Linked DNA regions of Homo sapiens: region 2 is linked to region 1. Evidence: fine-mapped expression QTL. Tissue or cell type: tibial nerve. Region 1 holds a variant in brackets; the other region holds the start of a gene. All regions are shown on one strand. Distances are between the middles of the regions.

Region 1 (8,189 bases):
CTAAACCATCCCAAACATGTCCTCCAAATTAGGAGGAAAACTAAGAAAATTAACATTGTATTTCTTTGCAATGGGGTAATGATAATCAAATAGCCACACATGTAATTTTATTATATTGATTATAAGGTAATTAACCAGTTCCACAGGTTCTAACAGATCCAGTGACCTTTTTCCTAACACAGTTTGGCAATCCCCTTCTCCTTGGTGCCTCTTTGACAGGCATTGCCATCCACATGTCTTTTCTATTATAACCCCCAGCCCTGACTCCCCCTCCAAACTCTTCATCTTCTGGTTTTCAAGTTACTCTACTTCCCATCACTGTGTGCTGTGTCCAGTCCAGTATGTTTTTCTCTTTGTACAGAAACAGCATGATTTGTTCCAGCTCCTTATCCCAATGTGTAGTTTCATTCTTACATTGGGATTTGATGCAAAAGATATTCACCCAGGTAAGGGAAGGGTCTTGAAGTTCAGACTCATTTAAGAAAATTGGCACACTTGCTGAATACCTTGACAGCTTTCTAAAGCAAGAATCATATCAAAAAGCAACAGTTTAAATTTTAGTTTTCACCAGTCTAGCTCCAGTTTCTTTTGCTAGGCTTCTGATTTGACAGCTAAGGCCATAGATGTTCTAGGCAGCCAAATTTGTCAAAATTTTAACAATCTGACCTCTAACAGAAAAGCTGATCTGTTACAGATTGAAAGAGAATACAATTTGAGATCCATGTGAATTCCTTTTTTTCCCCCCAAACTATTTACTCATTATACGTTTAAAGGTCACCAGTATACAGCGGTGTTTCAACTATCTGGGAATTTATTCACTGCTGGTAACCTAAATGCGGCCGCTCTGTTTTTCATTACTGGCTGGTATTTTTAAGTCTGAGCTCTGACCTTCTAACTTAGAACAAAATAACTTGGTTTCAACATTCTCAAACATGGCAAAGAGGTTTTTTATTCCCAAGATGACCACAGGAACCGATGTCATGGTATCTCCTTCAGTAACCAACATTATTCTAAACAAGAGACTCGTATTTTTGTCACATTGGGCTAAAGATGAAGCCACCTTTGCAAAATTATAACTCAGGAAATGATGACAGTGAAAGAAATCAGACCTAACTGCCTCCATCTTTCTTCTAACCTTTAAGCTGTCCTTGTTCATTCCTGAGCATAGGCTGAACTAACTTTGGGAAGGAAGTCAGTTCATGGTTTGACTCTGAAACACAATCGATAATAGTCCTTTCCTGAAAAGCCACCCCCCCCACCCTTCTTGCCTGGGGATCAGTCTATCTTTGCAGGACTAACAAATTAGCTACAAGATTAGAAATTACAGTTTAGGGGTCATGCAGCCTCTGGCTGCAAAAGTCTGAACCTCTCCAAATTGCTCCTGGGGATAACATCACTATTATAAAACTTAAGATCAGTGCTTGAGATATTTCGCAGACCCTACACTGGATGGATCAACTGACACCACCCAGACCGGTAATCTGGCTCAACCAGTTCTGCCATCCCACCCAGGAACAGAAAACAGCAAGAAAACCTCACATAGACCCCCTATGATTCCATCTCCAACCTGACCAATCAGCACTCCTCACTTCCCAAGCCCCTACCCACAAAATTATCTTTAACTACAGGAGACAGGAGTAATAATAAAACTCTGGTCTCCCGCACAGCTGGCACCGCGTGAGTTACTCTTTCTCCACTGCAATTCCACTGTCTTGATAAATCAGGTCTGTCTAGGCAGCGGGCTAGGTGAACCCACTGGGAAGTTACACTGATAGGTGAAAGTTTCAGTTGAAACATTGCCAAGTGTCTGTTGGAGCAGGATAATATTGTCTCTTTCAATAACTTGTTTTTATTCTCTCTTTAGAAACAGTTCTTTGGATGGAAGAATAAAGTTATCAATAGTTTTAGCTGCTTGGTGGGATCACATGTGATTTCCATTTGTTTGATGAGGTTTTTCCATGTTTTAAAACTTGTCACTGTAAAAATGTGGGGCTTTTTGTAATTAAAAAGAAACCTACCAGATATTACAATTATAATTAACGTTGTCGTTAGGCTTTTTTTTTTTCAAATGAGTGGTTTTTTATCTGTCATTCTGGGCAACGGTTTTGAGGAGGAAATTTGCCAAGACTGTAGGGCTTCTCACACTTTAATATGCATAGTAACCACCTGGGATGTCATTAAAATGCAGTTTCTGATCCAGCAAGTTTGGGGTGGGGCCTGAAATCCTGAATTCATCTTATGAACTCCTTGGCAATGCTACTGCTGCTGCTCTGATAACCACACTTTGAATAATACCGCTCTGACCCTTGGTTTTTTTAGCTGGCACCAAAATCACCTGGAGGGCTTGTTGAAATGCAGTTTGCTACTCTTCCACCTGCCCCACCCCATGACTGATTGAGTATATCTGGGGTTGGGCTTGATAATTTGCATTTCTAAACAGGTTTCCACGTGACATTGTTGCTGCTTCAGGAACCTCATTGTGGCTGCTGATCTAGAGCCCTGTTAATCAAAGCCTTGTTTCTGGACCACACCAGCATCACTTGGGAGCTTGTTAGAAATATAGAATCTTAGACCCTACTCAGACCTACAAGGGTAGAATTTGAGAAGCACTACTTAGTCTCTTTGTGCCGCAGAATCAACAACTCAGCTTTAGCTTGTTAGAATCAACTGTGGAACATTTAAAAATCCTGATGCCCAGGCTGAACCTGGAACAGCTTCATTAGAATCTCTGGGGCTAGGGCCAAGGCATCATTAGTTTCTAAAGCTCCCCAAGGGATTCCAGTGTACAGGCATGTTTGAGAACCACACTGTAGATGGAACTGAAAAATCCAGAGAGAGTAATCTTGTTTCCCAACAGAAGGAGACTTGGAGGACTAATTTTCCCTGTTGCCATCCTATTAGACAGTGTGTCATCAGCCACTGGACCAACAGGAAACACTTGGGGCCCAAGCATTAAATTGCTTTGATCACTGGATTTTTAGCAGCCTGCATACACATATCGGCTTTGTTGTTTGGCCTTACTTTGTTCTAGCTTCGTTACATACCAACTGGAGCTAACCTCTCCTGTACTCTGTCATCTCTGGGCTAAGACCTTAGAAATATAACCCATGGGTCATTAGCTTATTTCCCCACCTCACTTTCATTCAAAAGGTATATTCTCTATAAGATTTTAATGGGAACAGAAAGTTCTCCTGCATGGATAGGTCAGGATATAGATTAAGCTAGAGAGAGAAATAGTACATAATTTTACAGATATGAGATGATTTTTGCAATGTATTAAATAGAACAAAATACTGTCCTTGAGCTCATATTGGTCATTTTCCCTAAAAGCACAGTTAGGTTTTGTGTGGGCATGTGAGCTGGAATATTTGCCATTATAAGCCTGTCCTAATATTCTCCAGTTTTAAAACACTAGGCAAGCCAAGTGTTTGTGGTTGATGGTTGATTTTGGAAAAAGTCATTTATTACTCACCTATGAAGAAGTGTTACATTGTTATTTCCAAGGGTTATAAAGGCTACATTTAATTCTGGATAATGTTGAAAGGATGAGCTACCTTTCTACATACAAACCAAAGGAATTCCTGCGTGGATAAGAGCTGTGATCTATTTTGTTTTGGCAAGAAAAGCATAGTTTATGAAGAGAATTGAATTTATTCCAAATACCCTCCTCAGAGACGAGAAATATGTTTGAAATGTTGCTTCCTTTGTACCTCTGTCAACTTTTTAATTTATTTAAATTTTTTTGAATCACCTACTACTACCTGTCAGGCTAATGATTCCTGTAAGCTGATACCCATTGTCTGAATTCATAAGTTCCTTTCACTCTTCCTACATTTTCTTCCCTAGTAAGGTGGCACCTGTTGACCTTGCTGCCTGCCTTATTCCATAGAGGAGACTACTCCCAGCACCTTCTCAGGCGTCTCTTTCAGGCTGTGTGTTGTCCCTGTCAAGAAGCTCTCTATCTCTATCCTTATGCCATCTCCCCTGAGGACAGGAAGCACAACTACATGCAGAGTTTCAGATATGCTTCAGTTTGCCTTCTCATTCAGGTGGAAAACAAAATCCCCTTCATAAACATTATTGAGAAAGTTATTGAATAAACAAACCATAAACTATGGCATTTTTATTACATGGAAAACTCAAAAACAAATATCCTTAAGGAATCCTCCTTCATTCCTCCATAAATGTTACTAAATGTTTAACAACTATCTTTGGGGGTAGAGGTGAGAGGCTTGATTTGTGGCATTTGCTAATTTCAGTGGCATAAAGATTCCTATCATGAGTGACTTCAAGCTGTTGCGTAGAGATGTACACAATACACTCTTGCAGGTTATTGTGAGTCAGACCAGGCCCAGCACACCAAAATATTAGGTGCCAAAACATTTGTGATATTTTAGGCTTCCAGATCTCATTTTCCTTTCATTTTCAAATGACAGGGAGACTTATTAGTCAGAAGATGTCTCAAAGATATATATTTCCCTAGCAGGTGTTGTCTTTGTAATCTACTCCTGTATGACTGTTTTTCAGGACGGTTTTAGAATCATCTCAGGAATCTCCAGTACAACGTACTTTTTTGTCTGACCAGCATTCTCAAATTCCTGTAAAACTCAGGGTGAAAAGCAAAACAGCTCAGTTATAATCCAATAGTATATTCAGGAATCAAGGTGTAGTGCCTAAACCGTAAGTCACAGAGCATGAGAATGTTTA[G/C]AGCTGATTTAAAAGCCATCTAAAGTTGTGTTTCTTAAAAAAAGTAAGTCCATGTATGTCCATGGCTAGTGAAAATAAAAATGGAATGGCCTCCTGGACATGTTATGTCTTCTACCCCCTAGTTGAAATCATAAAATCTATGAATATTGCCAACAATTGAGGTTCTACCAATTTTTAGTCTGTATTGTTATAAGAATATTTTTGTTTTCGAAAATCTATTAAAATGCTCAATATAATTTGAAAAATTTATATGCCCTACTCTTTTCAATCTCAAGATTCTAAAATACCTGGCAAGGGAAAAAGCAATGTGACAGATCCCCTATTGTACCTCTGCCTCTCATTGAGAAACTCTGATCTAAAGACTGAGCCACCTGCTAGAGGCCACCTAATAAAACAACTGGTAGTAAGACAGGAGAGTTTCCTGGTCCACCTCACAGGACGTGTGACAGGGATGTGGCTCTCTGTTTGGCTGCTGCTAGCTCAAACCCTTATGGGAGGGGGAGCACAAAGATGGGCAGGTGTGCGAACTAGGGTGAGCGCTTTTGGGCTTTGGCCCCACAGCAGCATCTAGGGCTGGGTGCCTGTGACTGTTGAAGCCCCACTGTTACATTTGCTCTTTTAGCTCTGCAGTCCACAGACGGCTTAAGTGTTAAGCAATTTAGTGGACTCCCCTTGGTACCCAGCTTCTTGTCCAGCGTCCAGGAAGGATCAGGTCATACACAGATTTGAAGGATGAATGCAGGGGTTTTATTGAGCGGTGGAGGTGGCTCTCAGTGGGATAGATGAGGAGCTGGAAGGGGAATGGAGTGGGAAGATGATCTTACCCTGGAGTTTGGTTGTCCAGTGGCCGATCTCCTCTCTGACGGTCCCCAGCCAAACTCCTCTCGGTGTTCATATGCTTCTTCTCTACTCTCCTTCTCTGCCATGCCGCTCTGCCATTCATCTGCTCATCTGCCTCTGGAGCTTGGGGTTCGGGGTTTATATGGGTACAAGATCAAGGGTGTAGTAGGCCAGAAGGCAACTTTTTGGGCGTGAAAACAAGAATGCCTGTTCTCATTTAGGACTGTGGGTTTCCAGGCTTAAGGCTGGGGTCTTTCCTGGTAGCATTCGTCTACTCAGTATTTCCCTCTCTCCTGTCCCTATCAGTGGGGACCACAATTTTTTACTTATAGAAACAAATATACTACCACCCTTCTGATTAGACTTCATATTAAAAGGGTTATGTATGTGTTTTATATATTTCATCCTTCTGAATGGCAAAGTCCTTTGGAAACCAGTTCAGTAACTTGGAAAGCAAAACATTTAACTTAAAGTTTTCATATGTTTTAATACAATGTTTATCTCCAGGTAAATCTCTATGAATAACCCATACAAATGCATAGAAAACTAAACACATTAGATATCGTATGGACTATATTTTATGTTTCTTAGGCTAACATTAAATATACATCAAATTCTCTGGCCCCAGAATAAATAGGTATAATTCCTGTAGCAGGGTACTAAGGAAATCCTATGTTAGCACTAAAATATTACATAGCGAAATGCAAACCTGCTCCTTGTTAATTTAATAGCATTGTTTGCATCTCTCAAGATGCTTTGGGGATACCAACAGTATGAAGTTAACTGGACATAATTATTTAAAGTAATTTACTAATTTTGGTTATATAAGTATATTGGAAATAACAAAGAAGCAATGTATATATGCTGTTTCACAAACCTAGATTTCGCCATTATTTTGTGTACTGGTGTTAGAACATGTGGAATGTGAATTGCCATAAATTGTACTAAAGAAAGTACGGAAGTGAGGCAACCATCATAATTGTTTTATGTGTTTTAAGCTGTTGCTAATGCTTTCCTAGATGTTAACTTTCCATTACATTGTTGTGGTTATGTTATGACATCCTTGCTAGTAAGGGGTAAGCTTAGCAATATTTATATGTTGCTTCTTAATGATTGTATTCCAGTTCTGGTTAGTCTTGCCTTACTGTATAGATGGCTTCTCTATGAGCATAAGGATGGTAGACTTTCAGGAGCAAATTAATGCCTACAGGATTTGCATATTTCTTACTGAAACAATTCTCAATCTTCTACCAGTCCAGTTTCTAACAACTTATGTCATGTGAAATCCTTATATTTATATGAATGTAAATTTTTAGTGTCCTTCCTTCAGAGTTGGATAAACTTGACTTTATAGCTCCGTCACTTTCTCACTGTTAAGTTTAGGCAAATTATGTTCAATCTATAAGCCAACCTCAGTTTTTTGTTTTGGAAAACTGGACAAACACTTTGGGGTTTGTTGTGAGAATTATATGTGAAAATGAGCATAGTCCTGGCACTATGCATATATAACTCATTACATGCTATGCACATATGGGCATAAATACATATAGACGTGCATGTGTATCAATAAATAGAGATGGAAATAACCCTATATGCATATAGAACTTAAGCCTTTTGCATAGTCCTTGCACAAATTGTCACACTTTGCTGCAAATCTTTGGAAACCTTTATAGCATCATTGTTACCAGAGATGACATGCACTGCTGTAAACAAGGAGAATACATTCTTTGATGACCAGAAAAGAATTCCTGTTGTCTGTGGGTGGACATGATAATCTTTTGTAGAGCAGGGACTTTTTAAGAGGTTGGTTCCAGCAAGCTTGTTTCATAGATTCTTACATAGAAATGTCCAGTGATCAAATGAGCTGTCTAAATAGAACTATAGAATGCGAACTGGAGGAGTAGTCAGTATCACCTTGCCAACCCCTTTATTTACACAGTGGCAGACAGAAACCCAGAGAACTAGAAAAATGACATTTGAGGTTTCACACGCTAAAAGTGAGCACAGAATTACTTGCCGTTTCATGTTGACGATTCTGGAAAACTCATTTCTTGTTAGGGCTTGCATGATCTTAGCCCAAGAACATTTTGAACACAATGCCAACCATCCAGCTTGGGGACAAATGGAACAAGCTTCTCAAGATGAACTGTCTAAATATTCAACTGGAAGCTGGGAAACAGCAGTAAAATAGCCAATCATTTTGTTTCACATGTTATATATGATGGTAGATTAATTAGTGTGAACCTTGTGTGGGTAGGAACAGCATGTAGTTCAGCTCTGAACCTTGGCCAATAGGAGGCATCTAATAAATTTATGTCGTGAAGCATCTAGAATACCATAGGTTCCCAATTAATGTGCGTGCAGAGCAATTAGTACATGCTGGATAAATGTTGAATTAAATTTGGGGGTCGTAGGTGTACCAGGCCACTGAACACTATGATAATGATTTTTGTATCATCCACATTTTCAAATTCTCTAACATGAGAACAAAGAAGAGAAACAACGTAAAGTACAAGTTACATACAAATGCAGAACATAGAAATAACATAAGCAAAGAAATCACATTTGGAACATAATTAAAGTCCATTTGTAATGTGTTTGTGTTTAAGAGTTTTATTCTTGGCAAAACAAATTGTTGCTTG
Region 2 (8,189 bases), 64 kb before region 1:
ATGGTTGAACTAATTTACATTCTCACCAACAGTGTAAAAGTGTTCCTATTTCTCCATGGCCTTGCCAGCATCTATTGTTTCTTGACTTTTTAATAATCACCATTCTGACTGGCATGAGATGGTATCGCATTGTGGTTTCTGATTTGCATTTCTCTAATGATTGGTGGTGTTGAGCTTTTTTTTCATGTTTGTTGGCCACGTAAATGTCGTCTTTTGAGAAGTGTCTTCATATCCTTTGCCCACTTTTTGATGAGGTTGTTTGCTTTTTTCTTGTAAATTTGTTTAAGTTCCTTGTAAATTCTGGATTTTTGTCTGATGAGTAGATTGCAAACATTTTCTCCCATTCTGTAGGTTTCCTGTTCACTCTGATGATAGTTTGTTTCGCTGTGCAGAAGAAGCTCTTTGGTTTAATTAGATCCCATTTGTCAATTTCAGCTTTCTTTACAATTGCTTTTAGTATTTTAGAGATGAAGTCTTTCCCCATGCCTATGTCCTGAATGGTATTGCCTAGGTTTTCTTCTAGGGTTTTTATGGTTTGGGGTTTTACACTTGTCTTTAATCCATCTTGAGTTAATTTTTGCATAAGGTGTAAGGAAAGGGTCCAGTTTCTGTTTTCTGCATATGGCTAGCCTGTTTTCCCAGTACCATTTATTGAGTAGAAGAGCCTTTCCGCATTGCTTTTGTCAGGTTTGTCAAAGATGAGATAGTTGTAGATGTGTGGTGTTATTTCTGGGGTCTGTTCTGTTCCGTTGGTCTATGGGTCTGTTTTGGTACCAGTACCATGCTGCTTTGGTTACTGTAGCCTTGTAGTATAGTTTGAAGTCAGGTAGCGTGATGCCTCCAGCTTTATTCTTTTTGCTTAGGATTGTCTTGGCTCTACAGGGTCTTCTTTGATCCCATATGAAATTTATTTATTCTATATTTCCATAAGTTATTGGGGTACAGGTTGTATTTAGTTACATGAGTAAGTTCTTTAGTGGTGATTTGTGAGAAAATACATGCTTTAAAATCTCTTTCAGACATGGGGATTATGATTTTCTCCTAAGTAGTTTACTTTTCTCATATAATAGGAAGTCCAGAGTAGGTGTTTGCTGGCATTGATTTAGCTCCCTGATGCTTCCATCAAAGATCCAGGATCTTTTTATCTTTTAGTCCAATTGTCCTTGTTTTGTTGTCTTTTATCCTTAGGATTGCTGCCTATGGTCACAAGATAGCTTCTGAAACTTCAGTTAATTACAGGATGCCTCATTAAGCAGGAAGCTGGAGGGAATGGGCTATGCCTCTTGTGCCTATCTCCTTTTGTCAGGAAAGCACAATGACAGAAGCCTACCAGGAGACTTCCCTGTACTTCTCATAGCCAGGACTGGACCACATAACTATACCTGGCTGCAAGGGAGACTGGGAAATAAGGAACAAAATTATGACTTGGTCAGTCTAGTCATACTCTATCACCTGTGCCAGGGCACATTGCTACCCCAAGGAATGAAGTGTGAGGGTAAATATTGGCAACAACTAGCAGCATCAGTCTCATAGGGTCGTAGATATATCCTTCTCTACTATGATCTAAGTAGTGCTCTTCTATATAATAGTATAATCCATGCATTCACTAAAAGAGAATTACTTTGTACTCTAAAATTCTTTACAAATGTCAAAAGATGCTGTGTGAAGTATCTTAGTATTTTTATTTATTGATTCTGTGTCTTTTATGTTTGTGGGGGAAAATTCAACTGATTTGTCAAAGATTTGATTACAGATACAGAATACAGTAGAATTATAAACCACCCCTCAAAATTTGTAAATAGGAATTATCATAAAACTTTCATGAAAGCAAAAGATATTTCCAAATTTAAGGTGTGTAGTGTGTTGCACAGGAAATATTGTTGCTCTCACTTTCTTGATTCTATAGCATTTGATAGTGAGCAGATACCAAAGTTTGATTCATATGTCCATGTTTCATCATTCAATCAAGATGTTGAAGTTCATATTTAAAAACAATCTTAATAAATATCTAGTAAACACTTTGTTTCAGGAATCATGCTAGCATACTTGCATGTATATGTACATATGCAAGTTAAAGTCTTCCTTCTCACAACAACAAATTTCTCAGTAACATAGGGTAGGATGTATAAAAAGTCTAAAGCACTAAGTTTGGGGTTTTATTTTGTTTCCAAGACTTGCAACTTGAGTCTTGATATGAAGTAGGAGCCTCTAAATATGGGGTAGCTGGTCTTTTTTAAATAGAATAAAATCAACAAACATAAAATCAAAACGTGCTGTTTTTCTAACTTAGGGATATAGAGACGCAGCAAATATTAGGTAACAATATTTTCCTACTTTTGAGCCAATTGTTTTGGCATCCTGAAAACATAATTTAAGTTACATAGTCAAAAGAAGTAATGCTGTTACATGTGGAAGATATATTCACATACAATTTACATTTCAGTGTACATTCTAAAGACATATGAATCAAAAATGATTGAAGGAAAATAAAGTATCTAGGTTCACAGATATTTATTTTGAAACCATGATCGTCAGGCCTCCATGATAAAGCATGTGCCTAAAAGGTGTTCTGGCTTTCACTTTGGAGATTTGGAAACAGTCTCAGGGACCAGTAACTTGCCCAAATTCTTGCAGGTTTCATAGCCATGACAGCTCTGGCAACCCTAAGGGTCTAAGGGATAAGATTTCTAAATCCACTTCATACAACTAACAGTGGTGCTCAACCATGACTCACATTAGAATCACCTGGAAAGCTTTTTTAAAAATACTAGTGCCTGGCCTCTACCCTATAGCAATGAATCCAAATTTTTGGTATTGGGGTCCAGGCATTGATTTTTTTTTTCTTTTTAAATAAAAACACTCAAAAAGCCAAAAATTTCCTCAGGTAATTTTATTACGCAGTGTAGGTTGAGAAACACTGATTATGCCATAGACCTGAGAATATGATTAATTGGGTTGTTGAATCAGGGTGATCCATAGCTAATGGGTTCTCAAACATTCAGTTCATGTGGTATTTCATGACCTGAAAGCAAATGCAGACAAGTTTTTTGTGTCTTATTTGAAATGCTGTTGTCAGACAGTATCATCTTTTCCAGCTATTCTTCTCTTTTCATTTTCAGGTGACTCATGCGGAAGAGTGTGCTTGCTTCATGTTGCAACTTAGTCCTTCACATGGTTGTCCCAATGCCCCATTTACCTTTGTGGCCATTGGCACAGCCTGGAAGTTTAGAACAATGCAAGTCATCTTGACATCTAAAACGTGATTTCTGGTAATGCCTTAGGAAGTAGTTTCAGGTTAATTTGTATTTCCAAACCGCCTCGGACTCCTTCCTGAAACAGATTAAAAACTGCGTATTGGCAAAGAGTGAGGGGAACTAGGTGAGGGGGATTGGGCTAACACTGGCTCCTTGTGATTAGTCCTGATTTAAATGCTGGAAATGACAATGGAGTTTGTTTATGGCTTTTCTCACCCTGAAGATATCTTTACAGGAATATTTATTTGAACACTAACTGGGTAAAGATTTACAGGGGCTCAAACAATTCTTTTTCAAGGAGCTGAGGGCCTAATTTTTATCATACACATCAATACATTTTTTTCCTTACAGGAAATGTGTGGGTGTCTGGGCTTTTAAAAATTGTATATCATACTCTTCTTTCTTGCCTCAATGTTGCTTTGATAAAATGATTTACTTGAATCTTAAACTGATTATTTACCAGCTATAGGACTTGGGAAAAATTGCTTAACTCCTATGAGACTGGGCACAATCATCTCTGAAGCAAAGACAGGGTTATCTGTGGCTTATTGTGGTTGCAGAAATTAAAGAGATAATTTTCAAAAAGCACCTAGTACAAAGTCTGGGTTAGGTAGTTCTCCAATAAACATAATTTATCCTCTCTTCCTTCCTCTTCCGTCAAACAGAATATATTCTCCAGAAGAACCTGATATAAGTGGTGTGTACATAAATGAGAATTTGTCATTTTTTAATTTCCTCGAGTATTCTGTAAGAGTAGACTTTAATAATACAGTTTTATAATACAGTAATACAGTTATAATGTTTGCCATGTGCTTTACTATGAGAGTTGTTGATTGGATGGCTTGTCTTCTTTGGTAGAATTCAGTATCAGTGAGTGGAAAGGTTATTTTTGCATGTGGTTGGTCAGGCAACAGAGAAGTCACTCCATACAAGCAGCTTTCTACTCTGCATACAAGGTAGATCCAGTGGAAGTCACGTTGAGTGATGTGTTTGTGCAAACAGCAGTTAATGACCATGTAGGATATCCCATCATCAGAGCTCTATCCCAGCTGACTCAGAGTAGGATTAATCATGAAAGCCTGGATTTAGATGTGTGTCTGAAGATACATGTGTGCTGGGAAAGAAATTAGGCTGGACTTTTATAAAAATTGTTACAAAGAAGCAACAATAATTAGAATAGAAAAAATGGCCTTCAGCCATTTAGTGTCCTGGTAGACATGAACCAACACAGCCCACTTCAGGCTGGCAGATGTGAGAGAATCTGTGGAAGGGAGGCTTGAACCGTCTTGAAAATATTTCCCAAAGCCTCTGCTGCTGGGATACTGGTCAGAAGTGCCCCAAGTCTGTTTATCTGGAGACATGGAACGCTTTATTCAAGGACCTGTGGAGAGAAGGCAGACAAGACTGTAGAGTCTGCACTCTCATCCTCTTGAGGGCACACCTTATTTACAAAAGGAGATTTAGATTACTTGATCCCATAAATCTTGGCATAGAGAAACTCAAAGCAAATATTTATTCTACAAGGATGGGTTAGCAGTGTTAAGGTACTGAAATTTACCTTGTACAACTTTAAAGAAGTTTATTGAGTTGTTAATGGAATAGCATTACCTATGATTAACTAATGTTGAGAAACTGTTGGCAGGTTCCTGGTAAATATTTAACAACACTTATGAATCAGACAACAGAAATGGAATAAAATTCCAAAAAAGCTGTAGTTTTTTCATTTGGCTTGAAGTCAGTATAGAGAAGTTATTTAAAATAAGATTTTCGTCCCACGGAATTGTCCCCTTTGTTATTGTATATCCTTCAGGTTTATGGGACAGCACTAGAGGAAAGTGACAGCCTCAGAGGACCTTCAGGTAAGCTGGCTCCATTTTGGTGACATACATATAGAGGCATAAATACCTGGTTTTTACTGAGAATACCCTGGATAATTATTAAATTGGATTTGGACTAAGGAAGAAAAGGTCTTCTTGCTTTTCATTTTCTCTCTCCACATGAATGTATGTATGTGTGTGTATGTATGTATGTTTTTATAAAAATATTTGAAACTTTGAGCTCCTGAAATCCTAGACTTGGCTTCCTTGAACATGATTGTTTTCTGTTGAAAATTCTTTTCATGCCAATTCTATCTGACTAGTTTCAACTCTTCGATAACCAGGAGTCTGTAATAGATGATGTCATAGGGGTCTAGAATATTGGCATCTGACTTCAAACAAGAGATCAAAACTAATTTCGAGACAAGTTCCAAGTGTGTTCGCTAACTGCTATAAAGAGCACTAAACATTCATGATTCATTTAACTGTGTCTACACCACATAGAATGAGTGGAGACTTGCTACTTTTCTAGTCATTTATTATCCACCTATGCTGACAGATCCCATTAATCAGACTAGTTGGTTAATTGACAGATCTCCATTTTGCTTTTTGTTTATAGATAGTTCTGGTGTATAGATGCCAAACGTGGTATTCTATCATTGTGCACGATTCTTAAGATGACTTTTGGCCAGTCTAAACACTGCCTAGGAGTTGTTTATCATGCTTGATTTACTACTCCTCCTGAAGCATGTATACTATTAATTTCTGCTTGAGAATTTCCAACAAAGCAAACATTTACACAAAGAGGGTGATTCCCTTCTGGCTGTAGGGATGGATCAAGACAGTGGTACCAAAATAGATATGACTGTGTCCAAGTTCCTGAGACTTTAATCACATTTAATCACTGTACAAGTTGTGCTGGGAGGAAGGAAGATGTGGTGTCTCTCTGTGGCTGCACAATATATCTTGTCAACTCTTCAGCGAAGCTACGTACATGGCTGCAATAAAAGGGCTACCGTGTGTGTGTGTGTGTGTGTGTGTGTGTGTGTGTGTGTGTGTTTGTATTTTTCCAACTTCATTTACCAGTTTTTAGTAGAAAGCCGTATTTTGTGTATTTAAAAACACTGAGAATTGGGCAAGGCAAAAAAAAAAAAAAAGATGTTAGGATAAAGGAAAATTTCCCACAGGAATTACCAAGAATTTATCCCACAGAGGAAGTCCTTCTCAATTGCTTCTTGCTCATGGAAATATTTTCACCTGCCTTGCCAAGGCCTTGATACTGATATCTGGAAGGTATTAAGCAATCCAGAAAGTTTATTCATCAACTTTGATTCATCTTAATAAGAGAGCTTAGAAATCAAAGTTATTTCCCTCCTTCCTGCAAAAAGTTCAGGATTTGTAATGCTAAATGGCTTGCTCCCTACTTAGAGCAAATACTTTAGTCAAATTTGATATATTGACTCATAACCCACACATTAGAGCCAAACATGTCCTGTTATGAAAAATTAAGACTCTCTCGACACACAACTTGGCTCTGAATTTGAACCCAATAAACAGTTTTTGTTTAAATGCTCCATTTGAAAAGTAAATTAAAATACATTAGAATAAGTGTTTCTGATTCTCAAAGATATCACTGGATCCAGGGCAAAAAATCCTGCACATGTTGGGCTTCCTCTCTGAAATCAATGCCCTTCCTTAGGGCTTCTGAACCAATGGATATGAATTTGAGGCTGGGGTAATGGCTGTGGTTGTTGCAAAAAAAGAAGAGAAGGGAATTGAGTCTGTCTTACAGAGGCAGATCCTGGTCTAGTATGAAGAGCATCATTGATGCTTTGAATTGAACCTGAACTCTAACACCTCAGAAACTGCCACAGTTCTAACCATTAGAACCAAAAGATAATTGCCCAGATGGATGCACTGTGCATGATCTGCAATCATAGCCTTTTGATAACTATAAATCAGCAATACTAAAAATACTGCTTTTTTTAACCAAAATATTTGAGATCCAAGGAAGAGCAGACTAGCAGCTAACTCCTAATAAAGGCAGGCTTCAAAGAAGTTACCCAATCAGACAATATGTTGCCCAGTTTTCTGCAAGAAAAAAGGTCTCTCAAACTTAAAAGCAGAGTTTTTTTCCACTGAAATCAAGAGAATCCTTTAGGTTATGGGGACATGATATTAATTATTTGGGGAACTTTAGATCTTGGCTATTTTTAGACTTACTTTTTCTGTATCTTTAAAAAAGTTTTCTAAATAGAGATGCTTTCATTTCTTGTAAATGTCAAAGCCACACTGCAGCTGTCTGCCGTGTCCTCAGAGGTGCTTGCTCCCTGCTCACTTTCCCTGCAAGGTCAAGTTGACCTTTGAGTGCTAAAGCCAAGGGAAAGCAGGCCCTGGTTAGAAGCAGCTAGACTGTTACTGGCAAAGTTACCATATGGCAGCAGGCTCTGCTTAGCATGGAGAAGAAATAGGAAATCATGGATTGTAGAAATGAGTTTGAAGCCCATGGAATCTGGGAATCAATTGTATATTCATTGAGTAACTCAATGTTGTTTTCAGCACGAGTACCTACTATGTGCCACACACAATTCCACACTGTTTCTTACTGCCTTTGGCCTCATAGACTGTTATGCCTTGTGTCCTTCCTTTACCGCTACTAGCAGCAGCATGGCCTAATGGAAAGTAAGAGGGGTTCAAATAAGAGCCCCAAATTCATATTTGAGCACTGACCTTCACTTGTATGACCTTTGGCTACTTAAATTACCTGAACCTGAGATTCCCGATTTATAACACAGGAATACAAACATTGCCTATATTCAAAACCATTGATATGCTTAGTTAATTTTAGCTAATGATTTTTTTCTGGAGTTTTTAGACATGAGAAAAATATTTAAGGGACATGGCAGCGGTAAAGAAGAAATAAACAGATGTAAGTTTGGAAAATAGTATTTGTGAGGGGAAACCAGAGGCCAGATATGGCACAGGCAGTTTATGAACCAAGGTGGGTGGGTTGGGTTGCCTGGGAAAGGATTTTAGAGGCATACTGCTAAATGAGTCAGTTATATCCAGAACTGGTGTCCAGTCCTTTCTGCCCTGACCCAACTTTATGTGGTTTGAT

The links. PIP is the estimated chance that this variant, and not a neighbour inherited with it, causes the effect.
Region 2: LINC02889 starts here. The variant in region 1 is fine-mapped to the expression of LINC02889 in tibial nerve (GTEx, PIP 0.93).

What each region holds. Positions count from the first base shown.
Region 1 is chr7:17,491,981-17,500,169 of GRCh38, reverse strand. All of the region lies in intron 1 of LINC02889 (long intergenic non-protein coding RNA 2889), which reads left to right. Among named protein-coding and RNA genes, the nearest start is that of LINC02889, 63 kb to the left of the region's middle. RefSeq lists a silencer at 7,435-7,594. The variant G/C (reference allele first, on the strand shown) is at 4,708.
Region 2 is chr7:17,555,676-17,563,864 of GRCh38, reverse strand. LINC02889 (long intergenic non-protein coding RNA 2889) reads left to right here and starts at 4,956. Exons shown (of 4, transcript NR_110013.1): 1 at 4,956-5,113.